3 separate regions of the Homo sapiens genome follow, and all the other regions are linked to region 2. The links come from fine-mapping of genetic effects on gene expression. A gene starts in region 2. Each other region holds a variant in brackets. All regions are shown on one strand. Distances are from middle to middle.

Region 1 (2,764 bases), 27 kb after region 2:
TCAGCACATTCCCTGATGCATCTTAGCTGCAGTCACTATTCATAAATGAGTTGAAAAATTCATCAAACAAGAATACATTGAGATCAATTGTCATATTTTAAATGCAAGGCACATGCAGGTCCCTCAAGAGCTGGAGGTAACTCAAGAGAGTGATGCTTCTCCCTTACTGCCATCTTGGCGTGCCTGCTCCATGATACTATATTTCCTCTGCTGGCTCTGCAAACATGCCTTGAATTCCATTTCTTGCAGATCCTGACTCCCTTTTAAAATATGGACATGCATGATGCTTCTCACAACAGTCTGTACCCATTCCTGAGGAACTAAAATGGAAACACTTCTACAGTCTGAAGCAAACACATAAATAGATATGTTTTATATGTCATCTAGGAATATATACATATCAGTTTATTATTTCGGATCAAAATATGTAACAGAAGAGGGACTTTGTGTATTCTTTGAGGTTGAAATGTATCACTAATTAAAACAAAGTGTATTAATTATTTTCTATTATAAAAGTAATAGGTAGTCTGGGCATCGTGGCTCTAATCCCAGCACTTTGGGGAGGCCAAGGCAGGCAGATTGCTTGAGCTCAGGAGTTTGAGAGCAGCCTGGCCAACATGGCGAAACCTCGTCTCTACAAAAAATTAAAAAATTAGTCAGGCCTGGTGGCACACACCTGTAGTCCCAGCTACTCAGAAGGCTGATGTGGGAGGATCGCTTGACACCAAGAGGTGAAGGTTTCAGTGAGCCAAGACCATGCCACTGCACTCCAGACTGGGTAACAGTAATATGTCATAACTAATGAAAATGTGCAAAATTCTGAAAAGTTAAAAGGAAAAAAGCAAATCATAGTTTACTACTTAAGGACAATATCATTAATGTTTTTAGCATCTTCTTCTAGCACTTCTATTATGTATAGAATTTTTTAAAAAATAGATGCAAAGGTTATTATATATGAAATTTTATGTCTTTTTTCTCTTAAAAATAGACTACATAAATAATACGTATATGGCCATGGAAACAATTTTTGACATTTAAATTTTCTCAACCACTTTGCTCTTTTTGGATACTTGGGGAATAACAAAATTTTTATTATTATAAGTAATACTGCTATGATCATGCCAATGACACTCTGCTTGATTTGGAAGTACATTCCTCGTACACATTCCCAGAAATGGATTTTTTTTTTGTAAAGGACGCAAAAGTTTAAGACTGTTGGCATATACAAAAGACCTATTTTCTGAATTCAGACTTTAGGCAAAAACAAAAAATTTAAGTGGGTGAGGGGGCAGGAAGAACAATAAAGAAAGCTAAGAAGTGTTTTGAAAAGCAGTTCACAAAATCACTCTTTACCAGCCACATACAAATGTTGAATGGCTCCATCCACGGTGCATTTGTGGAGCTCCCCTGTTGGCCATTCCCCGCATCAAGGATTCAAAGAACCTGCCAAGGGGCTGCAATGGGAGATTACAGTGACTCAGCAAATCAGGATGATCAGATTTCAAAGTCGGCCAAATAACTCATCTTGGAGACAGATGTAGCTGAA[G/A]TTTTACATTATGGCCTGCAAGAAACTTTATTCTAATAAAAGACAACTGTGTTTACAACTACTGGGCATATCTCAGGTTACCTTAAATGAAAATCATTTTCTTATTTTTGTAATTATGAAGGCTAAAAATAAAGATTTTTTTCATAATTAGTTTCTGGAACGCTAATAATAAGAAGAACTTAGAATATTACAGATTCTCTTACAAAACACAAAGACCTTGGAATAAATTTGGCAATTTCTTCAACAGCAGTGCCCTTATCAAAAACAGACACTTGAGAATTGTGGAAAGGGAAAAAAATTATCGAAGGAAAGTCATATTTCCTTAAATTTCTCTGTGAATGTGTACAGTGAATTTCTTCATCTCTAAAGCAAATCTTTAAAAAGGAAGAATTTGCTCTAAATTCAAGCATTCATTTTTATCTCTCTGTGCTCAAGTATTCATTTTTATCTCTCTTTGCTTTTGACACAGAGTATAAACGGTAATTATACCATCCAGTTGCAAAACGTCATTGAAAAACAGATGGTAAATTAATCCCAAACAATTATTACTCCAGGTTCTGACTATCAATTTTGTCTTGAACAGCTTGTCTAAACCTAGTTATAGAATTGTGAAGAAGGCTAAGTTTGTGTCTGGTTGTTGTCTTTCTCCCCTACCATTTTATTAAATATTTAATTTCTTCATGTGCACATAATGCTTTGAAATGTTAGATGTGGTTTAGCACACACTATCATATTTGACTTGCTCATTTCATTTTCCTCAGACCCTGACCAGGGCAGGATGAAAACCAACCTTTTCATCTCTACCCTCTTTTCATCTCAGCTAATTGTGGAATCAAATGATGCTGTATACATAAATGTGAACCCCTGTCCCACCCTTGGTATTGGGGCTTTGAAAGTCTTCAAACCCCACCACAATGGTGGTTGTATGGAGATCACTTGACGGTCTCATGTGCCCCAAGTCCTCAATCTCTGCAAGTGTCCCTTGGGACTTTGCTCAGTGTGTGTTTGTGGTAGTTGTTGTAGTGAAGGGTGGGGAGAAGGTTAGGGGTGTCCTGGAGGGCAGGGAGAGAGGTTTCATTGTCCCCTGGGGAGTGAGTGTGAATCATGAATGAACAATCCTTGACGAATCGAGTCAACCCAAATAAGAGTTTGGAACAGTGTTTCTCAAACTTTCTATAGTGAAGAAAATTTTGTTTTGTTTTTACATTTCCATTATAT
Region 2 (2,764 bases):
AGAATCACTGGCATAAAAGACAGAAAGAAGACTGTAAGATTCATGCTATAGTCAAAATAAAAAGAATGGGAGGAGTGTCTTCATTCACTGTTAGGGTTTTGCCTACCTGCATGGCTACAAAGTTCTAAGATACCAATAGATCCCAAATTTAACTGCAAGCAAGTGGTTCCCTAAAATCAGTGACCAACTGCATGATCATACTTGGTGTCTGAAGCCAATTGCAGCAAATATCAGCAACACTGTTCCAAAGCAAAGATTCTTAACCTGAGGATGGAATTCAGGTGATCTGTATAGGAAACTCACATAGGAAAATAAGTTGCATCTTTACTTTTAGTAACATGTCACAGAAGTTCAACATGTCCTTCCCTTATGAGCACAGGCAACAGAGCACAGTAGTATTGGCAGTTCTTGATAATTTGCACCCACCGGTATTTTCATGTCACATTTCAGTTTGGGCTATTATCTCAAAATACCATTTGCAGACATCACTACTTTGACATTACTGTTGCTTAATCGGCCTGCTGTTAAATCAAGCTATTTAATGCAATAATGATGATGCACCTGTGTTAGTTACTATATCACGACTTGAGGACTTCCATAATTGCATTCCAATAAAACTGATTCTGATTTAATTGTATTTTATGCATTTCACAACATTCTTCTGAGAAACAGTCTAATTGCTTTACCAGAGCCAGTGTGGTCCGTAGCACAGGAAACGGCGAGAGCCGGCTGGAGGACCGTGCCCTGGCACATTTGCATCGCAGGCCACCCCCAGGAAGAGCGCACCCTGACCAGAGCTGAGTCTTGTTTTGCCCTGCATTTCCGCAGATAAGATTTGGCCTGAAAAGCAGTTCAACTCAGCGGAGAATAAGATGGGCTTTCTCTTTCTCCTCAGCTGCCTCTTTCTCTTGGCATTTTGGAGTGCCCCGACTGCCAGGCCGGTAACTCGAGCCTCCAAATTAATCAAAACACACAGCACCCAGTTAAAGCCCAGGCAGACAAGCCCAGGAGCCAGACGCGCTCTCCTCTGGTGACCCCCGGGCCACAACTCCCCAGCTGGGCCCGCCACCACCCCTTGAATGCCACGCTCCCTCCACTGCCCCTCCCAGGCAGGTGCCGGGGCCCCGGGACAGCGGTTGCCCCACCTATGGGCGCCTTACCTGTGGGGACGCCCGCAGCGCCAGGAGCTGCCGCCTTGCCACCCCACGGGACGCGCACCTCCAGCCCCAATCCACCCGCGCCCCGCTGCCTCTTCGCGGCGCTCTCGCAGCCAAGCCCGGCGGCCGCAAGTTGGAGGCGGGCTGGAGGCGGGGAACGCGGACCGCCGCGGGCGCGGGGAACAAGCGGGGCCTCCCGAGTGCAGACGCCCGGCGCGCCTCCCGCTTAATCTGGGCAGGGCCGCTGGCCACTCCCTCCACCCTGCGCAGCCACCTCCCCACCGCGCAGCCACCTCCCCACCGCACACCCCCAAACGCCCCACCTCCGACCGCACCCCACTTCCCCGCCTGGGCCCCCGGACCTTGGGAGCATCACCTCCTTAACCCCTTACCCTGGATCCGCGCCCACCTGCCCCTCAGGCGCCCAGCCCTTTCTCGCCTCCTGGGCACGATGCCCGGGTAGAAGGGACACTGCCTGGTAAGTTGGGAGGGAGGGGGTATGAGGGCGGGACCTGAGCCACGTCTTCCCTCCCTTGAAGCCACAACCAAAAAGCCTGGGTGGGGAGGGACGAACCGCGCGACCGAGCCCTACAAAACCCGCCCCGGCCGAGTGGCGAGGCGAGCTTTCCAGCCGGGCTCCCAGAGCCGCGCTGCGCAGGAGACGCGGTGGCCTGAGAGCCTGAGGGTCCCCGGACTCGCCCAGGCTCTGAGCGCGCGCCCACCATGAGCGCCCGGACCGCCCCCAGGCCGCAGGTGCTCCTGCTGCCGCTCCTGCTGGTGCTCCTGGCGGCGGCGCCCGCAGCCAGCAAGGTGAGTGGGGGCTGCGCGACCCCCACCCCCGCACTTCCATCCCTCCTCCACGCGTCCGGGGGACGCGCTGGCCCCACCCGCAGCGGCGCGGTAGTGGAGCGGCTGCCGGGCTAGTGGCGAGGCTGAGGGCTTCACGCAGGTCCCGGGACAGGCAGCGAGCGGAAGGGAGCAAGCGGGGATGCCCCGGAACAGGTGGAATGCGCGGGGCTGGGGGAAGAGGCGAGGAGGGGGCTTGTCCAGTGCCTAGGAGTCAGGGATGGCGGGGACAGGCCTCCAGAGGTCAGTAAATTAAAAAATAGACACATAGATAATCGCCAGGGATGATACGTGAGAACACCGGATGTGGAGATGCACGGTGTCACGCTGGTGAATCAAATCAAGCAGCTTGGCCCAGCGCACAGAGGGCTGGCAGGAGACACCTGCAGGGAGTCCCAGCCGCCACTTCCTAGCTGGGACGTCACACTAAACCCTGACCTCTCTGGGGCTCAGTTTCTTCCTTGCAAAACTTGCCCTCCAGTTTTCCTTTGCTATTGTTGGGAAAAGCAAATGCTATCACTGAAAAATTAAGAGCACCTTAGAAATCGAACTCAGGTTAGAATCATTTAAGCAATCTGACACTTTGATTTGATTTTTGACTTGGAATTTGAGTGAAACTGGATTTATTTAAATCCATCCCATATTTCTTATTCTTTGCCATTAAATAGAAATTGATTGTCCTCAAAACGATTGTGCCTCCTAGAGTTGACTCACTTGATTTTACCTTGTGAAAGTAAACTTTAACTTTTCAGATACTTGTT
Region 3 (2,764 bases), 64 kb after region 2:
AGGTAGCTGGGATTATAGGCACTCAACATCATGCCAAACTAATTTTTGTATTTTTAGTAGAGACGGGGTTTCCCCCAGTTGGCCAGGCTGGCCTTGAACTCCTGACCTCAGGTGATCTACCTGCCTCGGCCTCCCAAAGTGCTGAGATTATAGGCATGAGCCACCGCACCTGGCCTCTATCTTAATTTTTAATGCAATTTTTATATTGCCATAGAAAAAATATAATGAAGATAATTTGTACCAGGAATCACCAAGCTTTTCCCATAAAGAGCCACGTAGTAAATATTTTAGGCTTTGCAAGCCAAGAGGCAAAATGAAGGCTACTATGCAGATACCTATATAACAAGAGAGAAAATAAATATCCACAACATTTGTATTGATGAAATGCAAACTTATGGACATTGAGATTTAAAGTTTATATAATTTTCACATTACAAAATGTTATTTCTCTCTTAATTTTGTTTCAACCATGAAAAATATAAAAACCAGTCTTAGCTCATAGGCCGGATGGAAACAGGCAGAGGGCTGGATTTGTCCTGCAAGCTGCTGTCTGCCAAGTCCTGCATTATACAGCTAATTTCATGAGCTACTATGTTATGTTTTTCACTGGGATTTTACGTCCCATCATGAGGGGCACAGTGATAGGGTGAGAGGGGGAGAAACATACCCCTCCTCCCCCAGTGCCTTGTGGCCAGCAGAGCCCGTCAATAATGAAATACAGGCCGGGCACGCTGGCTCACGCCTGTAATCCCAGCACTTTGGGAGGCCGAGGTGGGTGGATCACTTGAGCTCAGGAGTTTGAGACCAGCCTGGCCAACATGGTGAAACCCCATCTCTACTGGAGAATCATTTGAACCTGGGAGGCAGAGGTTGCAGTCAGCCAATATTGCATCACTGCACTCCAGTCTGGGTGACAGAGCAAGACTCCATCTCAAAAAAAAAAAGAAGAAGAAGAAATGCAACACTGCACCTGAGAATATGACTGACCCTGGGTCAGACTGTCTCACCTGAATTCAGATCCCCACTCCCCATGTTCCTTACTATCCTTAGCCTCTCAAAATCCTAGGTTTCTCATCTATTAGATGGAGCTTATAACAGTACCTCCCTTACAGAATTGTTGTAAGATATAATGAGATAATATGAGACAG[C/A]CAGCACTGAAAGTGCTCAAAACATACTGAGATCATTACAGTGCTGATGGAAGTTCATTTCCTCTACCACCATCCTGATCAAGGGATCCCGTGGAGCCTATTTTTCTTACATGAATAGTGAAGTTTTCTCAGTCTTTCTGCATTCAAAACCTTTTAGGGGGTAAAAAGAAAAGAAAAAAAAAGGAACCTGGAGTTAATGATTATAGGTATACTTACCATTCTCTGCATTGCATAAGACGGGCAAAATTTTCTTACCATATTATTTATTCTCAAATGTACCAGAGAGCCCTCACTGCACCGTCTTTGTCAGAGTTAGTAATCTGTATGCTTGCTGTCATCCAGAAAATCAAAAACGGGTGGCTGGCTTACATGTCTAGACTAGTGATGTGTCTCTGGACGGGAGTTGAGGGATAGGAAGTGGCAGCTGCAGTGAGATTTCTTTGATGTCCAAGGGTGGTGACAGCAGCTTCAGGGCGGGGCAGGCGGGGGCATCCCGCAAAGCAGTCCATGGGTGTCATTCTTCTTCACTGGAGGGCATGGTGCCAGGGCACATGGTTGGTTGCTTAAGGCAGACACGGGCAGAGGCGGCCCTGCAGAGGACAGCTCGTGGCGTCTGTCTGGCACGGTTTGGCTATACTTGGTCAGCTCTTCTTTTCACACACAAAAACTTTCCCCTCAGGCTATTGGCTGGGCAGAGGGACTGGCAGGGTCAGTAATCATAATGCAAAATCAACAGACCTGCTCAGTAGGGTGTTAACCAGCTGTGAACGGTGCCAACTCCCCCTGCTATTAAACCAGGCTGGGCTGGGCTGGGCTGCGGGAGAGAGATTGGAGAAAGGCAGGGCAGGCCACGTCTGTTTCACCAGCATGCACAGGAACGAGCATGCTGGCTGTTGACAGTAGAGAGAGAAATAGTCAAGATTATTTGGAAATTATGTTCTGGTCTATTAATAAAAATGCATGTGCATATTTCCTGATCCTTTTAACGAACAATAAAAATGGATGTGTTTAATGAGATCCTTCATGAGTTTTAAGGATAAAAAGATAATTGTTTACAGTGCTAGGGGGATATAAGGAATTGTGAGACACCGTTCCCACCTGCAGTTTAGGGAAAGTGATAAACCCTCAACTCAGGAGCACCTAATGATCCATGTCAAGTCAATGAGTTAGTAACAGCCTACAGTAACAGCCCTCAGTGTATCCTATGAACTCTTCTAAGGGCTTACCTGTGCTAACCAATCTGACCCCATTTCACAGATGTGGAAACCGAGACACCTGAGACTGCCTAGACTCACAGAGGTGAGGTGGCAGAGCTGGGATTTAGACCCAGGAAGTACGTCTCTGGAACTGGTGCCCTTCACCCTGTACCACTTTGCCTCATAAGAGAAAGCGATGTGCAGGTGAGACATGGGTGGCACACGGGCACTGCGAGAATTGAGATCAAGAGAAGAGTGTGAGACCCAATTGATCCGCACTCCTGGAAGGCTTGCTGCCTTTGTGTAATATATTTGATCTGGCACCTTTCTTGGATAAGCATCAAGTACCATTGGGGTCTCTAACCAATATTTTGTTAAATAAAACATTGTAATGTGTCTGTGCTCTTAGGCAAATGATAT

Direction of the effects. Alleles are on the strand shown, and positions count from the first base shown. SD is a standard deviation of normalised expression in the study named. Not every link is listed here.
For the expression in skeletal muscle of the gene that starts at base 1,359 in region 2, G is the high allele of the variant in region 1 and A is the other (moderate effect, 0.61 SD a copy in FUSION).

The links. PIP is the estimated chance that this variant, and not a neighbour inherited with it, causes the effect.
Region 1: its variant is fine-mapped to the expression of COL4A4 in skeletal muscle (FUSION, PIP 0.95).
Region 3: its variant is fine-mapped to the expression of COL4A4 in thyroid (GTEx, PIP above 0.99).

Annotation. Positions count from the first base shown.
Region 1 is chr2:227,190,106-227,192,869 of GRCh38, forward strand. The region is part of intron 1 of COL4A3 (collagen type IV alpha 3 chain); the gene reads left to right. Among named protein-coding and RNA genes, the nearest start is that of COL4A3, 27 kb to the left of the region's middle. RefSeq lists an enhancer at 618-1,817. The variant G/A (reference allele first, on the strand shown) is at 1,547.
Region 2 is chr2:227,162,847-227,165,610 of GRCh38, forward strand. It overlaps COL4A4 (collagen type IV alpha 4 chain), which reads right to left and starts at 1,359. Exons shown (of 48, transcript NM_000092.5): 1 at 1,161-1,359. COL4A3 (collagen type IV alpha 3 chain) reads left to right here and starts at 1,778. Exons shown (of 52, transcript NM_000091.5): 1 at 1,778-1,967. The coding sequence starts at 1,881. RefSeq lists enhancers at 686-1,587, 862-961 and silencers at 1,232-1,611, 1,832-2,011.
Region 3 is chr2:227,226,595-227,229,358 of GRCh38, forward strand. The region is part of intron 1 of COL4A3 (collagen type IV alpha 3 chain); the gene reads left to right. MFF-DT (MFF divergent transcript) reads right to left here. Exons shown (of 14, transcript NR_102371.1): 11 at 1,887-2,038; 12 at 1,176-1,298. Among named protein-coding and RNA genes, the nearest start is that of COL4A3, 63 kb to the left of the region's middle. The variant C/A (reference allele first, on the strand shown) is at 1,149.